Linked DNA regions of Homo sapiens. The protein of the gene in region 1 purifies or fractionates together with the protein of each later gene. This does not show direct contact. Each region holds a gene or a part of one and is shown in the gene's direction. Other genes may lie near its edges. The genes, in order: CA10, PSMG1, NSUN4, MTERF4, KCTD15, TOR1AIP1 and WDHD1.

Evidence for each region.
Region 2: the proteins of CA10 (region 1) and PSMG1 purify together in Homo sapiens (affinity purification with mass spectrometry; 4 studies listed by BioGRID and IntAct, with this or other methods). This does not show direct contact.
Region 3: the proteins of CA10 (region 1) and NSUN4 purify together in Homo sapiens (affinity purification with mass spectrometry; 4 studies listed by BioGRID and IntAct, with this or other methods). This does not show direct contact.
Region 4: the proteins of CA10 (region 1) and MTERF4 purify together in Homo sapiens (affinity purification with mass spectrometry; 4 studies listed by BioGRID and IntAct, with this or other methods). This does not show direct contact.
Region 5: the proteins of CA10 (region 1) and KCTD15 purify together in Homo sapiens (affinity purification with mass spectrometry; 3 studies listed by BioGRID and IntAct, with this or other methods). This does not show direct contact.
Region 6: the proteins of CA10 (region 1) and TOR1AIP1 purify together in Homo sapiens (affinity purification with mass spectrometry; 4 studies listed by BioGRID and IntAct, with this or other methods). This does not show direct contact.
Region 7: the proteins of CA10 (region 1) and WDHD1 purify together in Homo sapiens (affinity purification with mass spectrometry; 4 studies listed by BioGRID and IntAct, with this or other methods). This does not show direct contact.

Annotation. Positions count from the first base shown.
Region 1 is NC_000017.11:52,155,915-52,159,966, reverse strand, and holds the start of CA10 (carbonic anhydrase-related protein 10 precursor), read left to right. Parts: upstream 1-1,252; 5' UTR 1,253-2,180; coding exon 2,181-2,241; intron 2,242-4,052. UniProt on the Homo sapiens protein: Does not have a catalytic activity.
Region 2 is NC_000021.9:39,180,652-39,184,915, reverse strand, and holds the start of PSMG1 (proteasome assembly chaperone 1), read left to right. Parts: upstream 1-1,464; 5' UTR 1,465-1,530; coding exon 1,531-1,664; exon of another isoform or gene 1,665-1,852; intron 1,853-3,014; exon of another isoform or gene 3,015-3,037; coding exon 3,038-3,144; intron 3,145-4,264. UniProt on the Homo sapiens protein: Chaperone protein which promotes assembly of the 20S proteasome as part of a heterodimer with PSMG2.
Region 3 is NC_000001.11:46,354,307-46,357,806, forward strand, and holds part of NSUN4 (5-cytosine rRNA methyltransferase NSUN4), read left to right. Parts: intron 1-3,269; exon of another isoform or gene 3,270-3,353; intron 3,354-3,500. UniProt on the Homo sapiens protein: Mitochondrial RNA cytosine C(5)-methyltransferase that methylates cytosine to 5-methylcytosine (m5C) in various RNAs, such as rRNAs, mRNAs and some long non-coding RNAs (lncRNAs).
Region 4 is NC_000002.12:241,099,488-241,103,546, reverse strand, and holds the start of MTERF4 (transcription termination factor 4, mitochondrial), read left to right. Parts: upstream 1-1,259; 5' UTR 1,260-1,273; coding exon 1,274-1,294; intron 1,295-3,652; coding exon 3,653-4,059. UniProt on the Homo sapiens protein: Regulator of mitochondrial ribosome biogenesis and translation. Binds to mitochondrial ribosomal RNAs 16S, 12S and 7S and targets NSUN4 RNA methyltransferase to the mitochondrial large ribosomal subunit (39S).
Region 5 is NC_000019.10:33,806,870-33,810,369, forward strand, and holds part of KCTD15 (BTB/POZ domain-containing protein KCTD15), read left to right. Parts: coding exon 1-138; intron 139-3,500. UniProt on the Homo sapiens protein: During embryonic development, it is involved in neural crest formation. Inhibits AP2 transcriptional activity by interaction with its activation domain.
Region 6 is NC_000001.11:179,899,285-179,902,784, forward strand, and holds part of TOR1AIP1 (torsin-1A-interacting protein 1), read left to right. Parts: intron 1-841; coding exon 842-883; intron 884-977; exon of another isoform or gene 978-1,280; intron 1,281-2,017; coding exon 2,018-2,104; intron 2,105-3,500. UniProt on the Homo sapiens protein: Required for nuclear membrane integrity. Induces TOR1A and TOR1B ATPase activity and is required for their location on the nuclear membrane. Binds to A- and B-type lamins. Possible role in membrane attachment and assembly of the nuclear lamina.
Region 7 is NC_000014.9:54,992,600-54,996,099, reverse strand, and holds part of WDHD1 (WD repeat and HMG-box DNA-binding protein 1), read left to right. Parts: intron 1-286; coding exon 287-497; intron 498-3,500. UniProt on the Homo sapiens protein: Core replisome component that acts as a replication initiation factor. Binds directly to the CMG complex and functions as a hub to recruit additional proteins to the replication fork.

The DNA of each region.
Region 1 (4,052 bases):
ATTCCCTCTACGCTCCCTCCTCTTCTTCAATAACCCCAAAGAGGTAGGTTTGAGCTTTCGCAAACCACCACTGCAGCGATGGAAGCAGACAAATCTGTTGAGATTTTGTCTTTCCCCTTTCGTTCCCAGCCCTCTTAGGCAAGCAGTTCTGAGCACAGGGTTTTCTTCAATTCCCCTGCATCCACACTGCAACCGGGTGCAAGTCTTTCCTAGGTTATAGACAGCCCGCCTCCCCACGAGACCTTCTGCGGACTGGCTGCCCCTGGCCTCGGCCTGGGTGGGTGGGTGGTGCTCGCGCCGCCCCTACTTTCCCCTGGGGCCCTGGAGAGCCGCGCGCTGGGTGTGTGTGTGTGTGCGCGCGCGGGTTTGGTGGGGAAATCTCCTTCAGTGGAAGCTGCTGAGTGTCGTTGGCGGAAAGTATCCTGGAGCCCAGCAAAAGCCTCCAAAGCACTAGAGCTTCCCTAAAGAAAAGCAGAATAAAAGAAAGACAAGAAGGGAAGCCCGTTCCTCTAAAGCCCGGGTTTCCAATAGTCCCGGATCCTCCTGGAGTTGGGCGAAGGCGCAGTTGGCAGCAGCCGCTGCTGGCACCCGGACTTGGAAAGGCGGTGTTCCCCCTTTTCGGGAGGAGGGAGGCAGGGACTTGCAGGCAAGAGTTGCACCTGGTCTAGGAACCTGCAGAGAAAAGAACTCTGGGGTAAGTAGTGTTCTGGCACTGGCACGGAAAGGGGTAAAGGGTGGGGGGCATGAGAGGGACGAAATGGAGAGGGCAGGGAATGAATTATGCAAAAAAATCTCCAATATTTCGCAGCGGAGGGAGAGCACAGCACAGCACTCCCAGGATGAGTCCTGCCTGGGTCTCCCGCGCCGAACCCGCAGCACGAAGTTCTTTTTAAGAAGAGAAACTCGAAAATCCTGGAGGGTAACAGAGGCAGCCAGGGCGGGGCGGAGTGCGGAGGCGGCTGCCAGGGACTGGGGCCGAGGCGGCGGCCAAGGTGGCCTGAAGCTGTGACACCCAGCCTCCTCCTCCTCCTCCTCATGGCCGCGCTCAGCCTCACCTCCCCGCCCGGGCCTCCTGCCTCCGCCCCCGGGTGCCGGGCTGCGGAGCTGACGCTGGGACGCCCGGCGGCGGCGAGGACGCTCACCTGGCCAAGCCTCCTTCTCCTCCTCCCCCTCCCGCCCCCACCTGTCCTCCTCCTCTCTGAGTTGGGAAGCGTAGGGATCCGTAGGCGAGGAAATAACGACCCCTGCAGTTGTATTGCGGAAAATCTCGACAGCGGCGCTAGTTGCGGGCGATGGAAGCCAGGCAACTGGGGGTTCTGGGGAGTTCAGGAAAATAGCAGAGGAGCAGGAAGGGCGCGCGCGACCTGGAGAGTCTGTGTGCCCCCACCGCGCCCCAGTCCCCGGGGCCCAGCCCTTCCCCTCGGCGCCCTGGACGCACTGCCGGAACCCGGCTGAGAGGCTGCAGGCTGCGCGCGGACCTGGGGAGCAGGGAGGGTCGGCGGAGGCTGCCGGCGGCTGGCGGTTTCGGGCAATAATCCCTGCCTCTCTTTCTCTGTGTGTCTGCTGTGTCTGCTCCTTCCCCGCCCCCCGGAAGCAGGAGAAGAACTGCCCCGGAGCGCAGCAGCCACCCTCCGACCATGCCCCGGTGAGGGGGGCGGACTTCGAGGGCAACTTGCCGCGGACTGCCTGGGCTTAGCCAGCGAGCTACGCGCTCCCGGGAGCCCGGAATTGCACGGCGCAGCCCGGCGGGGGGCTATCGTCTATGTCTTCTTGGGGCGCCAGACGAATCGGGGTCTCGTTTTTGCTGGAAGAGCCCAGTGTTGGTGGCTTCAGGTGGCTGCTGCCGCCGCCGCCGCCGCCGCCGCTGCTAGTGCGGTTTCCGCCGCTGGTGCGAAGAGAAGAGACACGCGAGCGGGGAGACCTCCAAGGCAGCGAGGCATCGGACATGTGTCAGCACATCTGGGGCGCACATCCGTCGAGCCCGAGGGGAGATTTGCCGGAACAATTCAAACTGCGATATTGATCTTGGGGGTGACTGTCCCTGGCCGGCTGTCGGGTGGGAGTGCGAGTGTGCACTCGCTCGGAAGTGTGTGCGAGTGTGTATGTGTGTGTGCCGTGTCGGGCTCCCCCCTTCCCCCCGTTTTCCCGTCGAGTGATGCACTTGGAATGAGAATCAGAGGATGGAAATAGTCTGGGAGGTGCTTTTTCTTCTTCAAGCCAATTTCATCGTCTGCATATCAGGTACGGGACGCGCCGAAGTCACTGGCTGATTTGGATTATGTTGTGATGTCTGGGGTGTATGGGGTTTTATTGTATATAGCCGCGGGGCAGAGAGAGGGGTGGCGAGACCCTTTGAGTTCTGCGGGTTTGCCGCCTTCAGAATCAAAAATCTTCTCAGCCCAAGGGTGTGTGAATGTGTGTGTTTTGCGGGGGGGGGTGGTTAGGATCTGTGTGCAGTCCTAGAAGGGTGAAGGAAAAAGTGGTGGGGGATGAGAAAGAAGAGGCAGATGGGTGTTGATTTTCAACTGCTTTCCTGGCTGAGAACTCTGGCGCCGAAATCCGAGCCTTGGCAACAACCACCCCCATCCCCTGGCTTTCAAAGTTCCCAGACTCGGTGGTTCCTGGCTGGCAAAATGGACGCGGGGCCCTGCCCGGGTATCTAACCACTTTCAAGAGACTGCGGGAGGATGCGGGACTGGAGAGTACCAGCAGGGATCAGAGATATGTCCTCCATGCCTTACCCAAACACATCAGGACTGATTGTGATGCTTTGAAACCTGCTGACACACCCTCCTCTACCCCCCCAATTTTCTTGTTAAAGCACTACAGTGTCACAAATACCACTTTCTTTACATCACGGTGTTTTTTAATTCCCAGTAGCAAGGATGTGCTGGCTCAGACCTCTCAGTCTACTTGGGCCTGTCTGTGCTTTTAAGAGCAAACGGGATTTCAGGGTGTTGAGGTGAAAGAGGTTGGGCTTGTGGACACCTGTGCCTGAGTGTGTTAGGACGAGTTCTGGTTTTTGAGCACTGTCTTTGTTGATGCAGGGAATTGGGGTTGGGAGGAAGCTGGGAGGGAAAGGGGAAAGCCCCTGGACCAGCAGTATTCCCCAGTTCAGTGGCTCCTCCCATTGAAGGCACCCACCCCATTTCCCTTCACACCTGCCACTTAAGCACCCAAGGAAAAGCCCATTTGTAGTGCTCCCTTCTGCCTGCATTCTTCTGCAGAAGTGGGGACTCGGCCAACTTCCCATGAAGTCATCAGAAGAGGAGAGCAGGATATTGCCCCTTTGAGCAGCCACATTTAAGCAGCACTGGGGTGGAGAGACATGTTTCCTGCCTCTTCCTTCAGCCCTGTCAATCCCCTCCCTTTAAGCCAGACCTGATTCTGGATAGGAGAAAACAACCCTAGTTCTGCCCTCACCCTGGACTCTGTTCCAAATCCCAGTCTGGCTTCCAATTTTCTCCTCATAGGGAAGGAATGGGACTCTTATCCGAAATCATTCTGTGTGGGGCTTGGCTACCCTATTAAGAAATTTGTCTCTGTGATACATCAGTGAGATGTGTTGTGTACCTGGCAGACAAGAAAATGTGCCCTGGGGTCACCCCAACTCCTCTAGTGGGACTTCTATTATTCCATTCTGCATCTAGGAGTGAAAATTCTCAAGTGACTTGTAAAGGTTTATATCAGTCATATGTCCAGATATGAAGTGGGTGGCATCTCACAAGGCCATATTTTACATCTTTCTCTTCTACATGTCTATTTCAAACTCTCTCTCTTGTTCCAGAATATTTGACTAGTTATAAAATAGCCTTTCCTTACTTCTCCCCAGTGTCATTAATAATTTTCAAATCAGACAAGCCATCTGAGTACCTTTAAGATTTATAAAGGGTTAACATTGATTAAGGCTCTGGATTTCCTCCAGCATCCTCTCTGTCCCCAGCCCTTACCCTGAATTTCGCCAGGCAATCACCGAGGGGAACAGGCTGAGAAAGGGTCTGATCTTAGCCTCCAAAAAAAGCATTAGTGGGATACCTGTCACAGCTATATTT
Region 2 (4,264 bases), on another chromosome or scaffold:
GGACTAAGACAAGTGGTGCCCAAACAACCTTTTTATTCTGCAGTTCCATCATCATAATAGACCAGTTAACCCAGGAGTCCTAATGTTTTAAAACATCATTGTGGTGATCTTGTTTATTCTATCTCACTAAGGATATCCAGTTTCCTAAGCTCTTACTGGCTAGCAATTTCGTCTTAATTTTATTGCTAAATGTTCAAATTTTGCTTCCAAACTCACTTTATTTTTGCAGATGTGTACATCTGCTAAGTACTAATTTTATGTAAATGATTTTGTTGATTATCTTTCCACATCTTAAAATGTTTCTAACAGCTTTGAGATTTTATCTCAACAGGCTCTCTCTGACCCCAAAGTAGTACTTACCTTCGTGACTACTGACAAAGTCACAAAATGCAGGCGATGTCATGTATTTCGGTACAACTAAATCTAGGAAACGGTTTTTTCATTGCATTACTGCATATTTTCATTTTCATTTAAATTATGTCCCCTTTTTCTCTTGCTTGAAACAGTGCTCCTCGAACTTTGTCTTCCAGCACATTTTAAAGAGAACCAATTAAAGAACAATCACACATTCTGCTTATTAAAGGCTATTTAAAAAGAAACATTTTGTATTAGAAAATGGCCAACTTTAAAACACTATTTTTTACACTCATAAAAATGTTTTTTAAATCGCCTTGACAATCATCAGCTTTTGAAATGTGAATTCCTATTGCCAGAGTAAAGGTCTCGTTTTTATACCACCACGAAGCGCTGTATTTCTTGCTGCCCTTGCGTCCGCCCGTGCCCGCTGTCTGAGGGCGCGCCTGGCTACGGGGGCCCTCAGTACCACCGCGCCGCCACCTACCTGGGCAGTCGAAATTTGGAGCGGGTGCTCAGTACACTAATGCTACCCCAGTCTCTCCTAACGCAGAAGGAAAATGGAAACGGACGATGAGGGGACGGCCCCACAGCTCCCGGACGCCACGGCCAGCGGCGCTGGCTCCGCCCCTGCACCCCTGGTTCCGCTACCGCCACGAACGGAGGCCCCGCCCTCCTCTCGCCCCCTGCCCCTCTAGCCCGCAGTCCTCCCACCTCCTGGCGCCCGCAGGGCTCAAGCTGCGAATGAAAGCCTTTGGGGGCCGGACGCGGTGGCTGAGGCCTGTAATCCAAGCACTTTGGGAGGTCTAAGGAGGACGATCGCTAGAGTCCTGGAGTTCGAGACCAGTCTGGGCAACATAGCGAGACCCCCTCCCCCAATCTGTAATTTAAAAACAAAAAAGCTGCGGGGACTGCTGGCCCAGGGCATGACAGCGCGGGCGGGCGGTGTAGAGGGCGTGGCCGCGAGCTCAGGGTGTGCCTGGGAGCGAGCCCTGTGCGGGGCGGGACGTAGCGCCCGCGCGGTGGGGGTGTGGCCGCGAGCTTGGGCTGTGCGCGGAGGGCGTGGCCTGTGCGGGGCGGGACTTATTGCCCGCGCGGTGAGGGAGCGTGGTCTCGCGCAAGCCGGCGTGCGGTCCCGCGGCGCTGCAGTTGTGTCCAGCCGGTCACGGGGCGGCTATGGCGGCCACGTTCTTCGGAGAGGTGGTGAAGGCGCCGTGCCGAGCTGGGACTGAGGACGAAGAGGAGGAGGAGGAGGGGCGGAGGGAGACGCCCGAGGACAGGGAGGTGCGTCTGCAGCTGGCGCGGAAGAGGTGAGGCACCGGGATAAGGGCAGCGCGCTCACCGCAGCTGGAAGGTGCGCGGGCCTGGCAGCCGCGACGGCGCCTAAGGCCGGGGCTCCGCGGTCTTCCGAGTGGCCCCCGCGGTTGCCGCCGCTCCTTGGCTCTGCTTGGGCCCTGGGTCTCCGTGAAGCCGCGGCGTCCAGCGGCGCCAGCCCCAGGTGTGTGTGGTTCTCGCGTGGATCTGCTGGCGTTTCGTGGAGTCCAGGGTGAAGCCGCTGTGGGAGGGCTGGGTTCAAATCCGTTCTTTAAAGGCTTTCTGGAGCGTTTCTGGAGCATTTCTGGAGGCTTGGTGTCTTGCGGACTCGTGATCTTCCCGCTTGTCACACTGTCTTGGGCCGCAGCGCTCCCGCGGGCCCCACCACGTTTGTCGTGGATTGTTCACGGACACACCAATTCCCTCGAAACTTTTTAAACCTGCACCCAACACTTCAATTAGCATGATGTGTCAGTAGCCGATGAACACGCTTTAAAAAAATTGTTTCCAAACACAAAAAAGTGGGAGAAAATAGTCAAGTGAGCCCTGACCCCTACACAACCGGGTAAATTCAACAGGAAGATTTTGCCACGTTTATTTTCTCTCCCGCCACTCCTAAGCGAATTCCAGTCATCATGGCCTTTCACCTCTACATTTTTCAGAATACATCTCAAACGTTTTAGGGATTTTCTTACATATGCTATTATCACCCCTAACAACACTAATACTAATTTTCCAGTATCATTTTGTAGTCCATGCTCACTCACGTTTACCTAGTTTTTTCAAACATGACATTTTACAGTGGTCTGCGTGAATGAGAATCCTAACAGGGTCCACAGGTTACATTTAGACGTGTCACTTCATTTAGAGCAACCTCCTCTTACCCCTCCTAAGAGACAGGACTGATTGTCTTGTCCAGTGCCCCCACACTCTGAATTTGTCTGATAGCTTCGTTGTGGTGTCACTTAACGTTTGTATCACCTGCATGTCCTGTAAAATGAATGTTCATTTGGAGGCTTGGTCAGATTCTCATTCAAAGTTTTGTCGGCAAGAATGCTTCTACTAAGTGGTGCTTTCTGTTTCTTATTGCAGGCTATCCCCAGCTGTCTCACTTTTAGGGATGCTAAGATTGGTTCTTGGGTCAGGTGGACAGCCTGATCACTATTTTAGAGTTCTCCGTAAACACGTATGCAATAGTTTTATCTGTTGGTTATCATTGTCCGAGTCCATCGTTTTCTGAGGATATTAGTTATATTCTTTATAAAACTAACGTGCATTTTATTTATTGTAAATCATACATATAGTGCCCTTTTGCCATGATACTGTTTATATTGAAGTTGCTTTAGTTTCATCTTGTTTCTTGTGTTAGGGAAGTGCGGCTCCTTCGAAGACAAACAAAAACATCTTTGGAAGTTTCTTTGCTAGAAAAATATCCGTGCTCCAAGTTTATAATTGCTATAGGAAATAATGCAGTAGGTAAGTGAAAATGCAGAAGACTTAGTCATTTTGTTGAAAGAATGAAATATACTTATTTTCTTCCATCATAAAAGATTTAAAATGTTTAGTACTTTAAAAAGCCACAGTAGAGTGATTGTATTTCTGAGTAAAATCTCTCTCCTGTTCCTGTTGCATCATTTTTTTTTGTTTTGTTTTTGGTAGAGATGGTTTCTTGCTGTGTTGCCCAGGCTGGTCTTGCACTCCTGTCCTCAAGTGATCCTCCTGCCTCAGCTTCCCAAAGAGCTGGGATTACAGGTGTGAGCCACAGCACCTGGTCTGCACTATCTTTTTAATAAACTGAAAAAATCAGATTTAGGCTGGGTGCAGTGGCTCACATCTGTAACCCCAGCTCTTTGGGAGGCCGAGGCGGGAGGATCACTTGAGGCCAGGATTTGAGACCAGCCTGGGCAACATAGTGAGACCGTATCTCTACAAAAAATAAAAAAATGAAGCCAGGCATGGTGGTGCTTGCCTGTAGTCCTGGCTACTCAGGAGCCTGAGATGGGAGGATTGCTTGAGCCCAGGATTTTGAGGCTGCAGTGAGCCACGATCCTCCCACTGATCGTGCTCCAGCTTGGGTAACAAAGCAAGACCCCAACTCAGAGAAAAGCTTTAAAGAAAATGTTTTTAGCTTCAGGAACTTAAAACTCAAGGAGCTGTTTCTAGTGTGTTGAGGTATCCGGGTTTATGTTAATGTTTTTGAGTTAATAGACTCCTTTGAGAACACAAAACTCTAAAGACAGTAATAATTATCAACATGTTTAAGTACTTAAGTTTTAAGGTCCTTGCATGTATTAATTCTCTTGGTGGATTAAAGTAAAAACAGTGTAGAGTGCAGCTAGGACAATGTACATTTACAAATACACACATAGACCTTTATATTTTTAGGGTGTTCACAGGTTGTGATGAGAACATTCAGGAAACCCAGTTAAGATCCCTTCCTCTGTAAGGTACCCCTAGTGGTTGTAGAACATAGTAAGTACATGATGGCAAGTAACTATGGACTCATTTATATAAAGTTCTGCTGGCCTAAAGTTTTTCAGAAGAGTATTACCCCGTGAGCATGTGGTAGAAAGTCTGTCAACAAACCTGCCTTCTT
Region 3 (3,500 bases), on another chromosome or scaffold:
CAGGCTGGCCTCGAACTCCTGGGCTTGAGCAGTCCTCCCACCTTGTCCTCCCAAAGTGCTGGGATTATAGGTGTGAGCCACTGTGCTGGGCCAGTCTCTTCATGTTTTTAAGTTATTTATTTTATTTTAAATGGCATACTCTAAAAATATTTGTTTAGAACACATATTTCTAAAAATATATAAAATATATAGCTGTTGTCTCTGTGTTGTCACCTGATTTACCTAATCTGTCTAGTTCTCACCATTCTGCCTCAACCACTCTAAGAAACTGAAAGAAAGACCAAGGCTTATGGAATCTTAGATAGGCTTGAGACTTGCTTTCTGCCTGTGTAGGAATCCCCTACTCATTTTTTTCTTTTTTTTTTTTGAGACAGTTTTGCTCTTGTTGCCCAGGCTGGAGTGCAGTGGCGCAATCTTGGCTCACTGCAGCCTCCGCCTCCTGGGTTCAAGCCTGGGTTCAAAGTTCGATTCTCTTGCCTCAGCCTCCCAGGCAGCTGGGATTACAGGTGTGTGCCACCACGCCTGACTAATTTTGTATTTTTTTAGTAGAGACGGGGTTTCACCATGTTGGTCAGACTGGTCTCGAACACCTGACCTCAAGTGATCCATTAGCCTCAGCCTCCCAAAGTGCTGGGATTATAGGCGTGAGCCACTGCGCCCGGCCTATTCATTTTTCTTGATATGAGAGCAGTGGAACATGATGGAGAGAGCATGACCTCTCCTGTCAGCCTAACCAGTTTCTACATTACAGGGGTGCTACTTACTAACCTTAGGCAAACTGTTGATCTTGCTGAACTTCAACCTCTTCGTTTGTGAAACAGGGTAATCCTACCACTTAGGATTATTGTGAGGATTCAGTGAGAGTATCCAGGGAAAGCACTTAGTATAGTACCTGGCGGTGAAGATTAGGCAAGCAGGACCCATTATCATTATTCAGCCTATGCTTAAACACATCCGTTGATGGGTGCACACTGAGATTCTGTTGTTGAACACTTACAATGTTAGGAAGTTCTGCCTCTTACTGCAATCTGTAGATAGCATGGTATATGGGTTAGGGCAAGGATTCTGGAGTCAGACTGCTTGGATTAGTCCTGGTTCCATTACTTATCAGCCAGAGAAGTTTCGGTGAGTTACTTAACTTTCAGTTAAGCTTCAGCTTCTTCATCTGTAAAATGAGGATAATAGTATAGTGCCTATCCCGTAGGTGAAAATTAAATAAGAATGCATTTGGCACAATGTCTGGAATATAGAAAACATTCAGTAGTAGTATAATCATCACAATCCTTACCATTATTATTATTATTTCCATTCATTGATCCTAGCTACTTATTTTAGAACAATATAGAATGAGTGACCTGCTATTTCACTTGACAGCTTTAATGTTTGAAGATGTCTTTGTTAACTTGTTTGTTGAAAAACTAGTTGTGGCCGGGCACGGTGGCTAACGACTGTAATCCCAGCACTTTGGGAGGCCAAGGTGGGTGGATCACCTGAGGTCAGGAGTTTGAGACCAGCCTGGCCAACGTGGTGAAACCCCGTCTCTACTAAAAATACAAAATTAGCCGGGTGTGGTGGCAGGCACCTGTAATCCCAGCTACTTGGGAGGCTGAGGCAGGAGAATTGCTTGAACCCGGGAGGCAGAGGTTGCAGTGAGCTGAGATCGCGCCATTGCATTCCAGCCTGGGGAACAAGAGTGAGACTTTGTCTCAAAAAAAAAAAAAAACTAGTTGTGTACAATATACTCTGTGGTAGGCAAGTGTTAAGCACTTTTATTTATTTATTTGAGACAAGGTCTTGCTCTGTTGCCCAGGCTGGAATGCAGTGGCGCAATCATGGCTCACTGCAGTCTTGACTTTCTGGGCTTAAGTGATCCTCCTACCTCAGCCTCCCAAGTAGTTGAGACTACAGGCATGTGCACCATGCCTGGCTAATTTTTTAACTTTTTGTAGAGATGAGGTCTCACTATGTTGTCCAAGCTGGTCTCGAATTCCTGAGCTCAAGTGATCCTCCTGCCTCAGCCCCCCAAAGCATTAGGATTACAGGTGTGAGCCACCGTGCCCAGCCGTGTTAAGCACTTTAGATGCAAAGAAGAATGCTACTTCAAGGCTGGGCGCGGTGGCTCACGCCTGTATTCCCAGCACTTTGGGAGGCCAAGGCGGGCGGATCACGAGGTCAGGAGATGGAGACCATCCTGGCTAACACGGTGAAACCCCGTCTCTACTAAAAATACAAAAAATTAGCCGGGTGAGATGGCGGGCGCCTGGAATCCCAGCTACTCGGGAGGCTGAGGCAGGAGAATGGCGTAAACCCTGTGGGGCAGAGCCTGCAGTGAGCCGAGATCGCGCCACTGCACTCCAGCCTGGGAGACAGCGAGATTCCGTCTCAAAAAAAAAAAAGAAGAAGAAGAAGAAGAATACTACTTCAGGGCTCTACATACTCTTGGTAACTCCATCCTTCTCCCGCTCCACTTGTCCATCAGCTGGAGAAGGGACAGGACCTCAGAGCTCTGCATGTTCATGGAAGACACTAACCCCCCCATGTCACAACTTTCTTTTTTATGTGAGCTCAAGTTTATTTCAAATAATACAATGTTTATTTGAACATGTTTCTATCTTCCCTTATAATACAATATTATACAAATTGATATTAATACAAATAATATTTGTTAGACACTTGCCCAGGGCTGAGATTCAGTGGGAGCACTATCCTGGCACGACTGGTTATTTATGACTGACATCCATGCCAGTGCCTGATGTGAAGATGCATGTGCCATATCTGATGTTGAGTGGTTTGACTACCCTCCCTAAATGTTTCCTAAGTGTAGTGCAACAGTACAACTTCCTTTTCTTTCTTCTGTGACTGAGTGAGATCAACATATTTTTTTATTTTTGAGACAGGGTTTCACTCCCATCGCCCAGGCTGGAGTGCAATGGCACAATCTCGGCTCACTGCAACCTCTGCTTCCTGGGCTCAAGCAATTCTCCCGCCTCATCCTCCCAAGTAGCTGGGAGTACAGGCATGTGCCAGCATGTCCAGCTAATTTTTTTGGTATTTTTTGTGGAGACGGGGTTTTGTCATATTGCCCAGGCTGGTCTCGAAATCCTGGGCTAAAGCCATCCGCCCGCCTTGGCCTCTCAACATGAACATTTTCCACAGTTAACACTACTGAAACAATATTAGAAATATATTAGAACCAAGATATTCAGATATATTGCCATCGATTTATAGTCCCCTTGAAATTACATAGCTCTGCTGTTTCTCTGCATTAGGGGCTCAGGAGTCCAGCGGTCCTAAGTATACCTTGCAGCCATCTTCCTAAAAGTTCTGACCATGACTGAGGACACTGAGAAGGAGTAAGGAAAGAGTCTGTAGACATTTCCTCCTTTTTGGGTTGGGGAAACTCCTACAGCTTTTTTTTTTAAAGGATTGCAGTTATACCTTTGCTCATCCCTTTATATTTAGGTCATTTCCTTTTAGGTGTATCTCTTATATGCTGCATA
Region 4 (4,059 bases), on another chromosome or scaffold:
CTCAAGTGATCCTCCCACTTCAGGCTCCTGAGTAGCTGGGACTACAGGTGCACGCCACTACTCCCGGCTAATTTTTTATTTTTTGTAGAGACAGGATTTTCCTATGTTGCTCAGGTTGGTCTTGAACTCCTGAGCCCAGGCAATCCCCCCCACCTCAGCCTCTCACAGTGCTGGGATTACAGGCGTGGGCCACTGCACTCTGCCAAAGCAACCAATTCTTTAGTTTCTACACGGATTAGAACCTTCCTTTTCTTTGACATAATCCTTTTGTCAAAAGACAGTTTTACATAAATTGTTTGGCACCCCACTCCATGCCTGGCGCAAAGCAGATATGTAAATGTGTGCCCATGCAAGAATCAAATCCTTTATGTCAGTCCAGAATGAAGTAGATAAAACAAGAAATGCTTATAAATTAAGGCTTTGGTGGCAGGATTTAGGCAGCTGAGAAAGCACACCTTTTTATTCTTCACAAGCATCACCTTGTGAAAGATGCCTACGCTCTTAGGTCGAGAGAGGAAATTTAAGAATGAATACACATTGGGCTAAAACTTTACTATATTTCATCCTAAGAGGGAACCAGACCTCGAAGTTGGGAAGGCTCTTGCTTATAAAGGGAAATGTGCCGTAATTCCTGTCATTTTACTTGGGTCTTTTAAAAACGGCAAATTCTCATCTTCCACTGGCTGAGAGTAAAAAGAAAGAAAAGCGGTAAAGACTTCTTTTTGTGCGTAGGTGGCCCCGGTGTTCACGCTGAATACAGATTTTTACACAATAAAATCTTAAATATCTCTACATGGAACGGAATCCATTTTTCCTGCCTCGGGAAGGATTTCTGCGCTCTCGGGTGAAGTTCCCGAAGCAAGGAACCAGTTCCCCTCTACCTGTACTCTTGAGAGGAATTCTCAGGTCATCTGAAACACAAGTATGGGCCAGGACGACCCATTCGTTCACGCGGCCCAGAGCTCTGCGAAACGGGACACGGCAGTGCAACGGGAACAACCGGACACCGAGGCCCCCGAAGGCTGAGGCCGCGGCAGAGGCGGCGGCACGGTGACGGGCGCGACTCCGGCCTTCCGGCTTTCTAAGGGGCGGCCCCGGGACACCTGAGCCCCGCGGGGCCGTGAACGCTCAGCACAGCTCCGGGCCGGAATCACGATCCACCACACCGCGCTGGCGCTGGGAACGGCGTCGGTGACGGACCGGGGGCCGGAAGTGAAGGACGGGGGAGGACCGCTGCTTCCGGCGCCGTAACTGCTGCCATCTTCTCCGCGCTATGGCTGCGTTCGGCCGTCAGGTAAGCTCGAGCTGGGCGCGCGGGCTTCTCCGGGTCGCAGGCGGGCGGGCAGCGACGCAGAGGAACCGCGGCCGCCGAGTGTTTCACGGCCAGGTCGTGGAGCCCTCCCGGAGGTCCGTGCACGCTGACCTGGTTTTGGCATCCTGGACCCGTGGCTCTGCTCAATTATTGTGGGATATAGAGTTGACATTTTTTTTTTTTGAGACAAAGTCTCGCTCTGTCTCCAGGCTGGAGTGCAATGGCGCGATCTCGGCTCACTGCAACCTCCGCCTCCCGGGTTCAAGCAATTCTACTGCTTCAGCCTCCCAAGTAGCTGGGATTACAGGCGCCCGCCACCATGCCTGGCTAATTTTTGTATTTTTAGTAGAGACGGGGTTTCACCGTGTTGGCCAGTCTGGTCTGTAACTTCTGGCCTCAGGTGATCCACCCGCCTCGAACTCCCAAAGTGCTGGGATTACAGGCGTGAGCCACCGCGCCCGGCCTGAGTTGACTGTTGAACAAGAGTTTGAACTTCACAAGGAAGATAACATGTACTTTTCATTAAGAGGAAGCGGAATCAGCATAGAGGTCTTTAGGCTTGAGCCCAGTTCCACGGGCCGCGCCCGCTGACCCCAGCGACTGCCAGGTGTTCCTGGCGGAGGGAGCATCTGGACAGGGGAGGCTGGAGAGCAGCCAGAGCTTGGGCTTGGCAGGGTGGCCCCAGGGCGACAATCGATGACGCTGGAGAAGGGGTTGGGACCGATGTGAAGGTTTTAGAGCAGGGGTTCCCCAACCCCCGGTACCGTCCCTTGCCTATTAGGAACCAGGCTGCACAGCAGGAGGTGAGCGGCAAGTGAGCCAGCCAGACTGTATTTACAGCCGCTCCCTTCGCTGGCATTACCGCCTGAGCTCCGCCTCCTGTCAGACCAGCCGCCTTAGATTCTCACTGGAGCGCGAACCCTATTGTGAACTGCGCCTTTGAGGGGTCCAGGTTGCGCTCCTTATGAGAATCTGATGCCCGATGATCTGTCACTGTTTCCCATCAACCCCAGATGGCACCTCCTGGTTGTAGGAAAACAAGCTCAGGGCTCCCAGTGATTCTACATTATGGTGAGTTGTATAATTATTTCATCTTATATTACAACGTGAAAATAACAGAAATAAAGTGCACAACAAATGTAATATGCTTGAATCATCCTGAAACCCCTCACCAGTCTGTGGAAAAATTGTCTTCCATGAAGCCAGTCCCTGGTGCCAAAAACGTTGAAGACTGCTGGCTTAGAGTGCCTGGATGATTTGTGCATAGTTTGTTAAGCACCAGCCTGAACCACTGAAGACTTTTGAGGTCAACTGGAATTGTGTATGCAAGTTGACTAATTACTGTGACCCTTGAACAACACAGGGGTTAGGGGCACCAGACCGCCCCCACACCAGTTGAAAATCAGTGTATAACGTTTGACTCCTCCAAAACTCAACTACTAATAGCCTACTCATGACTGGAAGCCTTACCGACAACATAAACAGTTAACACATATCTTGTATATATATATATTGCATTCTGTATTCTTAAAGTAAGCTAGAGAAAAGAAAACGTTATTCAGAAAATCATAAGGGCAAAACCCCGTCTCTACAAAAAATACAAAAATTAGCAGGGTGTAGTGTGCACCTGTAGTCCCAGCTACTCAGAAGGCTGAGGTGGGAGGATTACCTCAGCCTGGGGAAGTCAAGGCTGCAGTGAGCCATGATTGCACCACTGCACTCCAGCCTGGGCAACAGAGTGAGACCCCCGTCTCAAAAAACAAAAAGAAAATCCTAAGAGAAAATGTATTTACTATTCATTAAGAGGAAGTAGATCCTCATAAGGTCTTTAGGCTGAAGAGGAGGTGAAGGAGAGTTTGGTCTTGGTGTCTCAAGGGTGGCAGAGGCGGAAGAAAATCCACATATAAGTGGATCCAAGCAGTTCAAACCCTTGTTGTTCAAGGGCCAACTCTGTATCCCACAAGATTCTTCTCGTGGAATGAATTTAAGAACATGAATCTGGAAAGTAGTCTGAGGTCCAGACTTTTCTGGCACACATGACCAGGTGGCCTAGAAATAGTTTTTCCCTCTTCCTCCATGTCCCTGCTCCCATCCTTAAAGCTGCAAAAGCTAACAATATTGTACCTGCTTGACTCCCATCTCTGTGGCCTTGAAATACCCTGTTCTTTGTGAGCTTCCTTCTCTGTAGGCTTAAGTTCAGATAGGATTTTGCAGATTGCTTATAAAAATTGTATGTTTGTGTGGAACCAAGGCAGTAAGTACTCTGGCTCAGAAGTCTTATGGTGTCCATTACACTGGAATAGTGAGGAATTAATTGTCTTTTGGTCCTGTGTCTTACAGGTCCTTGATTGGCACCGCCTGATCCCCCTCACCTGGGCCTGTATGGCTAGGCAGACTCCTCATCTTGGAGAACAGAGAAGGACGACAGCTTCTTTGTTGCGCAAACTGACTACAGCCTCCAATGGAGGGGTCATTGAGGAGTTATCTTGTGTTAGATCCAATAACTATGTGCAGGAACCAGAGTGCAGGAGGAATCTTGTTCAGTGCCTCCTTGAGAAGCAGGGGACTCCTGTGGTACAAGGGTCCTTGGAGCTAGAGAGGGTCATGAGTTCCCTCCTGGACATGGGTTTCAGCAATGCCCATATTAATGAATTGCTCAGTGTACGGCGAGGTGCCAGTCTTCAACAGTTGCTGGACATCATTTCAGAATTTATTCTCTTGGGTCTGAATCCAGAGCCTGTGTGTGT
Region 5 (3,500 bases), on another chromosome or scaffold:
CGCCTCTTCAATGGCACTGAACCCATCGTCCTGGACAGTTTGAAGCAACATTATTTCATTGACCGGGATGGGGAGATTTTCCGCTACGTCCTGAGCTTCCTGCGGACGTCCAAGCTGCTGCTTCCGGATGACTTTAAGGTAAGTCCATGGCTGGTGGCCCCCCTGCACTGCCTGTGTGATGGCATTACACAGGGGACGCTGTGACTTAATAAGTGGACCCCTGGTTGTCATGGTAACCATAAAAAGTTAAACGATGAAGCCGAGGGCTAAATCAGTTTTTCTAAACTAATTTTGTTTTCTCACATTTTTAGCTTATTTATCAGGGTATATAACAACAATCAAGCTGCAGAACGTATCCCAGCTGAACATTTGTCGTGTTTAAGGATGGGCGCGTGCCAGCGTTATAGTAGTTAGAGGTTCATAAATCTGTTCCATCGGCTGGGTGCAGTGGTTCATGCCTGTAATCCCAGCACTTTGGGAGGCCAAGGTGGGTGGATCACTTGAGGTCAGGAGTTCAAGACCAACTTGGCCAACTTGATGAAACCCCATCTCTACTGAAAATGCAAAAATTAGGCCTGGAGCGGTGGCTCACGCCTGTAATCCCAGCACTTTGGGAGGCCGAGGCGGGTGGATCACCAGGTCAGGAGTTTGAGACCAGCCTGGCCAAGATGGTGAAACACCGTCTCTGCTAAAAATAGAAAAATTAGCCAGGCGTGGTGGCAGGCCTGTAATCCCAGCTACTCGGGAGGCTGAGACAGGAGAACCACTTGAACCCAGGAGGCAGAGGTTACAGTGGGCCGAGATTGCGCCACTGCACTCTAGCCTGGGCGACAGAGCAAGACTCCGTCTCAAAAAAGAGAAAGAAAAGGACGGCTGTAATTAGACTTCAAAAAATAAAGTATAAAAAGAAAAATGCAAAAATTAGCCGGGCATGGTGACAGGTGCCTGTAATACCAGCCACTTGGGAAGCTGAGGCAGGAGAATCTCTTGAACCCAGGAGGTGGAGGCGGAGGTTGCAGTGAGCCGAGATCACGTCACTGCACTCCAGCCTGGATGACGGAGCAAGACTCTGTCTCAAAAAAAAAAAAAAATCTGTTCTGTGTTGGGCAATTTGCAGGGAGAAAAGCCCTGATGACCAAACAGATACCCTTTAAACAAAAGGTTAACCCCCAGGTCTCCGGGTGAGCCCGTCAGGGCAGGTGACCTGGTTCCCTGGGTCATGCCTCAGTGCTGAGCCCCTCCCACATGTCAGGGACTCTGGGAGGAAGGAAACTCAGGCCTGGGGTACACTGGCATGTATTAATACTAGCAAATGTCTGTCCTTCCTTCCTTCATTCCTTCCTCTATCCAGAGGACCAGTAGCCCTGGGGCCTTGTCTTTCATCCAGCTCAGTTACTGAGTGCCAGCCTCTGAATTCAGGCTGAAAACAGTGAAACACACACACTAGGACCTGCCCCACAACACTTAACAGTCTAGCGGGCAGACAGATACTGAACTTGAAGTCCATGTGACCTGGGCTGGGCGGGTTTGAAAGAAATGATGTTCATCTGGGTGGTGAAGGCAGAACGGGGCCAAACAGGTGTGAGGGCCTTGGTGCAGGGGATGGGGGTGGCAGATGGCTTGATGCATTCCAGAACTGGAAAGAAGGTGTCAAGCCTGGAGCTTTATGGACTGGGAGGGGAAGGTCAGGAAAGGAGGCTGCTGTTTGATGTCAGGACCTTGGTGGGTGGCCCAGTGCCTGGCATTTAACTCTGAATGCAGTGGAAGGGGTGTGTGCAGGGGAAGGGCAGTCAGATCTGCAAATTGGGAAGATCTCTCTGGCTGTTGGGTGGGGAAGAAGGCAGAGAGGGGTGGGGGTGGGTGCAGTGAGGCAATTATGGATGAGGCCCCTTCCCCAGGCCAAGGGAGGCTGGGTGGAGGCTTTGGATGGACCAGGATGGAGATAGAGAAGATGGAGCAAGGTGGCACATCAGACTTCTGTTTAGTACAGGCACAGTGGCTCACTTGGTCATCCCAGCACTTTGGGAGGCCGAATGGGGAGGATCCTTTGAGGCCTGGAGTTCAAGACCAGCCTGGACAACATAGCAAGATGCTGTCTATACAAATTTGTTTTTTAATTAAAAAAGGCCGGGTGCGGTGGCTCACACCTGTAATTCTAGCGCTTTGGGAGGCCGATTTAGGTGGATCACCTGAGGTCAGGAGTTCGAGACCAGCCTGACCAATATGGTGAAACCCCATCTCTCTTAAAAATACAAAAATGAGCCGGGCGTGGTGGTGTGCACCTGTAGTCCCAGCTACTCGGGAGACTGAGACAGGAGAATTGCTTGAACCCAGGAGGTGGATGTTGCAGTGAGCTGAGGTCACACCACTGCACTCCAGCCTGGGCAACAGAGCAAGGTTTCATAAGTAAATAAATAAACTTTACTTTTAAAGTTTTTTAAGAGTAATTTATTTACTTTTCATAAGTAAATAAATAAACAAGCAAGCAAGCTGCAAAAGCACGTGGCTGTGGTAGTGTAAAGGGCCTCTTGCAGGTGCCCCGGGACTTGTGGCTTGAATTCTGAGTTGGTAAGTTGAGGCCCGGGGTGGACCAGGCTGTGGGAGTGGGGTTTCTGCCCCTGCATGGGAGAGCTGGTGGGGCATCAGATGGAGAAATCCTGGGCCATGACAAAAGATGGGGTTGTCTGTCATGCAGTTGTCATTTAAAATCTCAGGAGAATGGCCAGGAGAGGTGGCTCACACCTGTAATCCCAGTGCTTTGGGAGGCCAAGCAGGAGGATCATTTGATCCCAGGAATTCCAGACCAGCCTGGACCTTGTGTCTACAAATAATTATTATTGTTATTATTATTATTATCCTGGCATGATGGCTCATGCCTGTAGTCTCAGCTGCTCGGGAGGCTGAGTCAGGAGGATCCCTTGAGCCTGGGAGTTCAAGGCTGCAGTGAGCTATGATCACATCACTGCACTCCAGTCTGGGCTACAGAATGAGACCCTGTCTAAAGAAAATAAAATAAAAATCTCAGGAGCAAGTGAGAGTGGAGAGAGCAGAGGCCCAGGATAGAGCCCTGAGGAGCCCTTGCATGGGGCAGGAGAGGCAGGATGGGCCACTGACCCATGACAGGCCCAGAGGTCAGGGTTAGAATCTAGGCCTCCCTCCAGGCGGCCAGCAGGTGGAAGGGACTTAGGGCCTGTAGGTCAGGGGGCTGGGCTTCCTTGCCTCTTCCTCAGGCATGAGTCATGGGGACCTATGGGACCTTGGCCATTCCCAGTGGGGTGGGTGTGTGTGAGCGTGTATAGTGTGCATATGTGGCCCAGGGCATGGGGCCAGTATCAGCGCCTGAGGGACAGTCTGTGCGAGGCTGCTTAGCCCAGAAGGGGGCTGCGTGGCAGGGGGCGGGCTTCCCCTCCCTGGACACTTTATCACACTCTGCCTGTTTGGGCAGGGGCTGGACCAGGCACTTGGCACATCTTGCATCCTTTGATCCTCACTTTCATTCT
Region 6 (3,500 bases), on another chromosome or scaffold:
TAGCCCATGTAAAAATACTATGTTCCAAGTTTATTTGATGTGTTTTGCTTGTTTATTTTTGTTCAAATTCTCTTTTGCACTGGAAAACAGTGACATACATGGACCCGCCAGAACTAGAAGTTTCTTTACCTTTCTTCCTCTTTGGATACACCAATGCTCGAAAGAACTGGGTTATCAGTCCAGTTAGTGTAGTTGGTTTTTAAAGGGAGTATAGGGGATTTGGCAAATAAGAGAATGAGAATATAGCAAACCTATACACACTAGAATATTTGTCAATGTAGAATTTAATGTTTTTTTTGCATACAAAGGTTACATTTTAGAGTAAAAATAGACCTGTGACTGAAGGAAAATTAAACACTTCATTTCCTTTTTCTGTTTGAGACAGAGTCTTGCTCTGTCGCCCAGGCTGGTATACAGTGGCGCGATCTCGGCTCACTGCAACCTCTGCTTCCCAGGTTCAAACTATTCTCCTGCCTCAGCCTCCCGAGTAGCTGGGATTACAGGCACACACCACCACTCCTGGCTGATTTTTGTATTTTTAGTGGAGACAGGGTTTCACCATGTTGACCAGGCTGGTCTCAAACTCCTGACCTCAAGTGATCCACCCACCTCGGCCTCCCAAAGTGCCGGGATTATAGGCGTGAGCCACTGCACCCGGCCAATTCTTAGTGATTTAACAGAAAAAGAATTTATTTAATGTGTCCTCATGTTCATTTTCCTAAACGAGATGCTCTTTTATTTATTCCTAAGCTTTAACTTTTTTCCTAAGCTTTTGTTTATTCCTAAGCTTTAACTTTTGATGTTATATGTTTAATATTTGATGTATGCTTTTTTCTTCTAGAAGCCACCAGTGTCCAACAGAAGGTCAATTTCTCTGAAGAAGGTATTTTACTTGTAAATATCATATAATATATACTTTAAGTCTTTTTCTTTACATTAGAAGCCATTCTGATAGATATTTAAGAAGTGGGAACAGAGCCGGGGACTGTGGCACATGCCTGTAGTCTCAGCTACTCGGGAGGCTGAGGCAGGAAGATCACTTAAGTCCAGGAGTTCTGGGCTGTCTGTAGTGCACTATGCCGATCAGGTGTCTGCACTAAGTTTGGCTTCAATATGGTGACCTCCCGGGAGCGGGGGACCACCATGTTGCCTAAAGAGGGGTGAATCCATTCAGTTCAGAAACGGACCAGGTCAAAACTCCCGTGCTGATCAGTAGTGGGATTGCAACTGTGAATGGCCACTGCACTCCAGCCTGGGCAACCTAGTGAGAGCCCATCTCTTAAAAAAAAAAAAAACAAAAAGAAGTTAGAACAGAAAATAATGTGTTTTTCTTCAAGAAAAAAAATTCATGCTTATCTGAACTGTTAACTGGGCAGAAATAATAGGACAGATAGAATGAGTGATGACAGCCTTACATTTTAAGCATCTTTTGTCTATTTGGGTTCATTTTAAGCAAAGATAATATTTTCTATTATGGTATTAAAGTAATCAGTTTTCCAAATTCTCATAACCAGTTTATGTTTGAAAAGTACAGGAATAAAATTTAGTTTTTGTTGAAGCTCAGCATAATCTGAGGGTGGTCACCTGCATAATAGAATGTTTGTGTGCAGGTGTGTGTACACTACCCCTCTACCACCAACACACACACACAAATACACATCTGAATTTAACTACACACTAATTATATGTAGTTTTCCTCCCCATAAACTTTTTCCACTGTTTAACGCTCATCTGTTCATTTTTGACTCTACATTAAAGCCTTATAGTTTTTTAGATATTACTCTGAATATTTGTTTAGGAAAGTATTATGTGCCCCAGAGGACACAAATTGAGATAAATTTTAGTTCCTTTGGAACTTTGGGATTCAAAATAATAAGCATGATAAACAAACAGTAGTTCTATATCTGATAACTTAAAAGGCTTCTTTTAATGTTAAATTATTTGCTTGGTTTTTTTAAATTCAGATCTTCTGAGCATTAAAATAGACTATATTAGTATATTGTTTACTTCTCTTTAGGAGAAACTGAAGAAGATGATCAAGACAGCTCTCACAGCAGTGTCACTACTGTTAAGGCCAGATCCAGGGATTCTGATGAATCTGGAGGTAATATTGCTTTATATACATATGACTCTTCTCATAGAACTATCTTTGGTATTCCATGAATTTGCTTTTTAAAAAAAACTTTCAAATTTTTATTAATACTTTATAAAAAGTCGTGAATTTTTCTTTAAATATTTATTAAAATTACTGATTTCGTGTTCATCCGATTAATACTATGTCATGATATCTAAACAAATCACTTTTAGCTTTTTTTGATATTTGTGGAAAATAAGATATTTTTGTGCTCAAAAGAAGAGTTACTTGTTGTTTTTTGAATTTTATAGAGAAACTAATCACATTGCCATTGGGACTGACAACACTATCTGGAGTGTTACTTTTAGGAAGTTTTCATTTAATTATATAACTAGCTTTATCTCTGGATTTTCAAATTCAAACCAAATTATTAATTAACAAGTTCTGATTGTTTATGTGAATTTAAGTTTATTCAATGAAAGAGTTGACTAAAGAGAGAAAAATACCAGTTTGAGGCTTAAGATAATGTTGAACAAGACCCTCCCCCCCAAAAAAGATAATGCTAAACAAATTTGTAAACTCTGTAAATAATGAGTAATTTTATACTTTAGTCCTGCACTTTCCCTTCACCACCTCCTTAAAATTTCTGTAATTCCAATTCTTTTTTTTTTTTTTTTTTTTTTTTAAGGCAGAGTCTCACTCTGTCACCCATGCTGGAGTGCAGTGGCGCAATGTCGGCTCACTGCAGCCTCTGCCTCCTGGGTTCAAGTGATTCTCCTGCCTCAGCCCCCCAAGCAGGTGGGATTACAGGTGCGCACCACCACATCTGGCTAATTTTTGTATTTTTAATAGAGATGAGATTTCACCATGTTGGCCAGGCTGGTCTTAAACTCCTGACCTCAGGTGATCCACCTGCCTCTGCCTCCCAAAGTGCTGAGATTACAGGCCTGAGCCACGACGCCTGACCTGTAATTCCTATTCTTTACCTCATCATTTCACTTTAAAAATAAGTACATAAGCTGGTTTGGTTTTTGTTTTTATTTTTTTGAGACAGGATCTCTCTCTGTCACCCAGGTTTGAGTGCAGTGATGCGATCATGGCTCACTGCAGCCTCGACCTCCCAGGCTTAAGCAATTCTCCTGCCTCAGCCTCCCAAAGTGCTGAGATTATAGGTGTGGGCCACCGTGCCTGGCATTATACGCTGGTTGTTGGGCATTTGGTATTCTGTGTGTTTCCCACCCTTCCTCATTTTTCCTATGAATTCTTGATACAGAAATGGAGATTTGTAACACGCTGGTAGTGTCTAGCTAGAATTTCTGGGTTCCATTCCTTCACTTTTTAGCTGTTTGCCTTTAGAGAGTTATTTAACTTCTGTGTTCCTCAGTCTTGTCATCTGGATTGTTGTGGGGGTTAAATTAATTCATAT
Region 7 (3,500 bases), on another chromosome or scaffold:
AATAAAATCTTATTTTATATTTTGGCATATACAGTATTTGTTTACATGTCAGTCCCTATACTCCCATCCCATCCCCAGACTACAAGGCATTTGAAATAAGGACTGGGTCTTATTGTGTAAATATAAATACAATTCTCATAAATACATTTACTAATTATTCTTATCTGTTCAGTGAGTTTGCTGCTTGGTAGAATTTATAGGTGCATATTAAAAGTTTACCTTTTTAGTAATTGAGTTTTTCTAAATCATTCACTTTTACTTTATAATTTGTATTAATTTGTTCAAGGTATCTAGCAGAGTGGAAAAGGATTATAATGATCTTTTTGATGGAGATGATATGAGTAATGCTGGTGATTTTCTAAATGACAATGCAGTTGAGATCCCTTCTTTTTCAAAAGGGATTATAAATGATGATGAGGATGATGAAGACCTCATGATGGCTTCAGGTCGTCCTAGACAGCGAAGTCACATCCTAGAAGATGATGAAAACTCAGTTGGTAAGAATTTGACTTTGTGCATGTGATTACCCTGTTGATTAATATTTTAGATTTTTTATTAACACTATTAAAGTCATTATTGAATTTGTAGAATGTAGCTAAGTGGTGCTTAGAGGAAATTTTATAGCATTAAATGACTTTGTTAAAAAAGGTTTCAAATCTATAATCCAAGCTTCTGCTATGGCAGACTAGAAAAAGAGAAAACTAAACCCCAAGCAAATGGAAGGAAATAATACAGAGCAAAATTCAATAAAATTGACAACAGAAAACCTATAGAGAAAGTCAATGAGACCAAAAGCTGGTTCTTTGACAAGATCAATAAGGCCGGGCACGGTGGCTCACGTCTATAATCCCAGCACTTTGGGAGGCTGAAATGGGCAGATCACTTGAGGTCAGGAGTTCAAGACCAGCCTGGCCAACATGGTAAAACCCTGTCTCTACAAAAATACAAAAATTAGCTGGGTGTGGTGGCACGTGCCTGTAATCCCAGCTACTCAGGAGACTGAGGCAGGAAACTCACTTGAACCCAGGAGGTGGAGGTTGCAGTGAGCCGAGATCGCGTCAACTGCATGCCAGCATGGGCAACAGAGCAAGACTCCATCTCCAAAGAAAAGAAAAGATCAATAAAATTAATAAATATCTATCGTGGTTGATCAATAAAGAGAAGACACAAATTACTAACATAGAGAATGAAAGAGAGGTGGGCCATCACTATAGATCTGTAGATTTGTGCTATCCAATATATAGTAGCCACTAGCCACATGTAGCTGTTGAGCACTTGAAATGTGGTTAGTTCAAACTGAGATATGTTATGAGTGCAACCGGATTTTTTTTTTTTTTTTGAGGCGGAGTCTCACTCTGTCACCCAGGCTGGAGTGCGGTGGTGTGATTTTGGCTCACTGCAACCTCCGCCTCCTGGATTCAAGTGATTCTTGTGCCTCAGCCTCCTGAGTAGCTGGGATTACAGGCATGCGCCACCACGCCTGGCTAATTTTTGTATTTTTAGTAGAGATGGGGTTTCACCATGGAGTGCAACCAGATTTTGAAGACAATATGAAAAAAAGAATGTAAAAATCTTGGGAAATTTTTTATATTGAGTACATGTTGAAATGATAATATGTATTTTAAATGCACTATATTATTAAGATTATGGCTGTTTCTTTTTACTCTTTAAACTTTAGAAATATTAGAAAATTTAAAATTACAGCTGTAACTCACATTATATGTCTGTATGGCAGTGCTACTATTAATATCAAAGGCATAATGGCAATATTATGAATAACTTTGTGCCCATAAATTTAACAACTTAAATGAAATAGACGAATTTTCTGAAAGACACAAAGTACCACTGCTAACTCAAGAAGTAATAGATAACCTGAATAGTATTGTATCTATTAAAGAAATTGAGATTGTAATTTAAAATCTTCAAATAGAGTGCTTATTGTAACAACTTACATGCTACAATAACACTTGAACATTATCAAGTAAAATGAAGAAATTGAGATTGTAATTGAAAATCTTCAAATAGAGTGCTTATTGTAACAACTTACATGCTACAATAACACTTGAACATTATCAAGTAAAATGCCAATGTGCAGTGCTATGTTGTGCTTTTTAAAGTCATATAGAGTTTATAGAACAGCAGTCCTCAAATGTTTTGGTCTCAGTAGCCTTTATACTCTAAAAAATTTTGAGGACCCTTCCGAGAGCATTTATTTATACAGAGTTACGGCTATCGTCATTTACATATTAGAAATTAAAATTCAGAAATTTAAAAATATTTATTCACTTAAAAATAACATTAATAAACTCATGTAAACATGAATAGTACTTTTTTATGAAAAACAAAAAAAATTAGTGAGAAGAGTGGCATTGCAATCTTTGTAATGTCTATCATAGAGGATAGCTGGATTCTCTCATCTACTTTTCTGGATTAAGTCTATTGCTATACATTGTTTTTGTTTGAAGTGTATAAAGAAAATTTGGCCTCACATAAATATGTAATTTGAAAAGGGAGAAGTATTTTAAGAAATCTTTTAATAGCACATTCAATTAATTGTGGATATTCTTTGATGTTGCACCAAGACTCAGAAGATGATCGTTTCCTAAAGATTACTTGCAAAGTGTAATCTGAAAACTTCAGTGAACTCTTACGGCTCTGTTATGTTAAGATTCATTGGTCTGGCTGGGAATGGTGGCTCTCACCTGTAATCCCAGCACTTTGGGAGGCCCAGGCAGGAGGATTGCTTGAGGCCAGGAGTTCAAGACCAGCCAGGGCAACATAGTGAGACCTCCTCTCTACAAAAAAACTTTAAAAATTAGCCAGGTGTGGTGACGTGTGCCTGTAATCCCACCTACTTGGGAGGCTGAGGTAGGAGGATCTCTTGAGCCCGAGAGGTCGAGGCTGCAGTGAGCCATGATTGCAACAGTGGGCTCCAGGCAGGGTAACAGAACGAGACCCTGTCTCAGAAAAAAACAAAATAAAATCAAAAAATTCATTGGTCTGACTTGAATGTTGAATGGATTTTTTAAAATCATGTTTAATTTTGTAACATATGAATTGATAATATTGGTTCACTGAAGTTTATAGATCCTCTTTATACTGACACTTTTTATTATCTAATATAAATTATTTGTTTTTGTTTTTAATTAATTATATGTTGTTTTTAATTAATTAATTTTTGTTTTTAGAGATAGCATCTTGCTCTGTCACCTAGGCTGGAGTGCAGTGGTATCATCACACCTCACTGTAACCTTGAACTCCTGGGCTTAAGCAGTTCTCCCACTCAGCCTTCCGGGTAGCTAGGACTACAGATGCATGCCACCATGCCCATCTAATTTTTTATTTTTTGTAGAGATGGAATCTTGCTTTGTTGCCCAGGCTGGTCTTGAAATCCTGGCCTCAAGTGATATTCCCTCCCCAGCCTCCCAAAGTGCTGCAATTACAAGCGTGAGTCACAGCACCTGGCTGTAAATTATATCTGCTAGTGTTGTTACCAATCT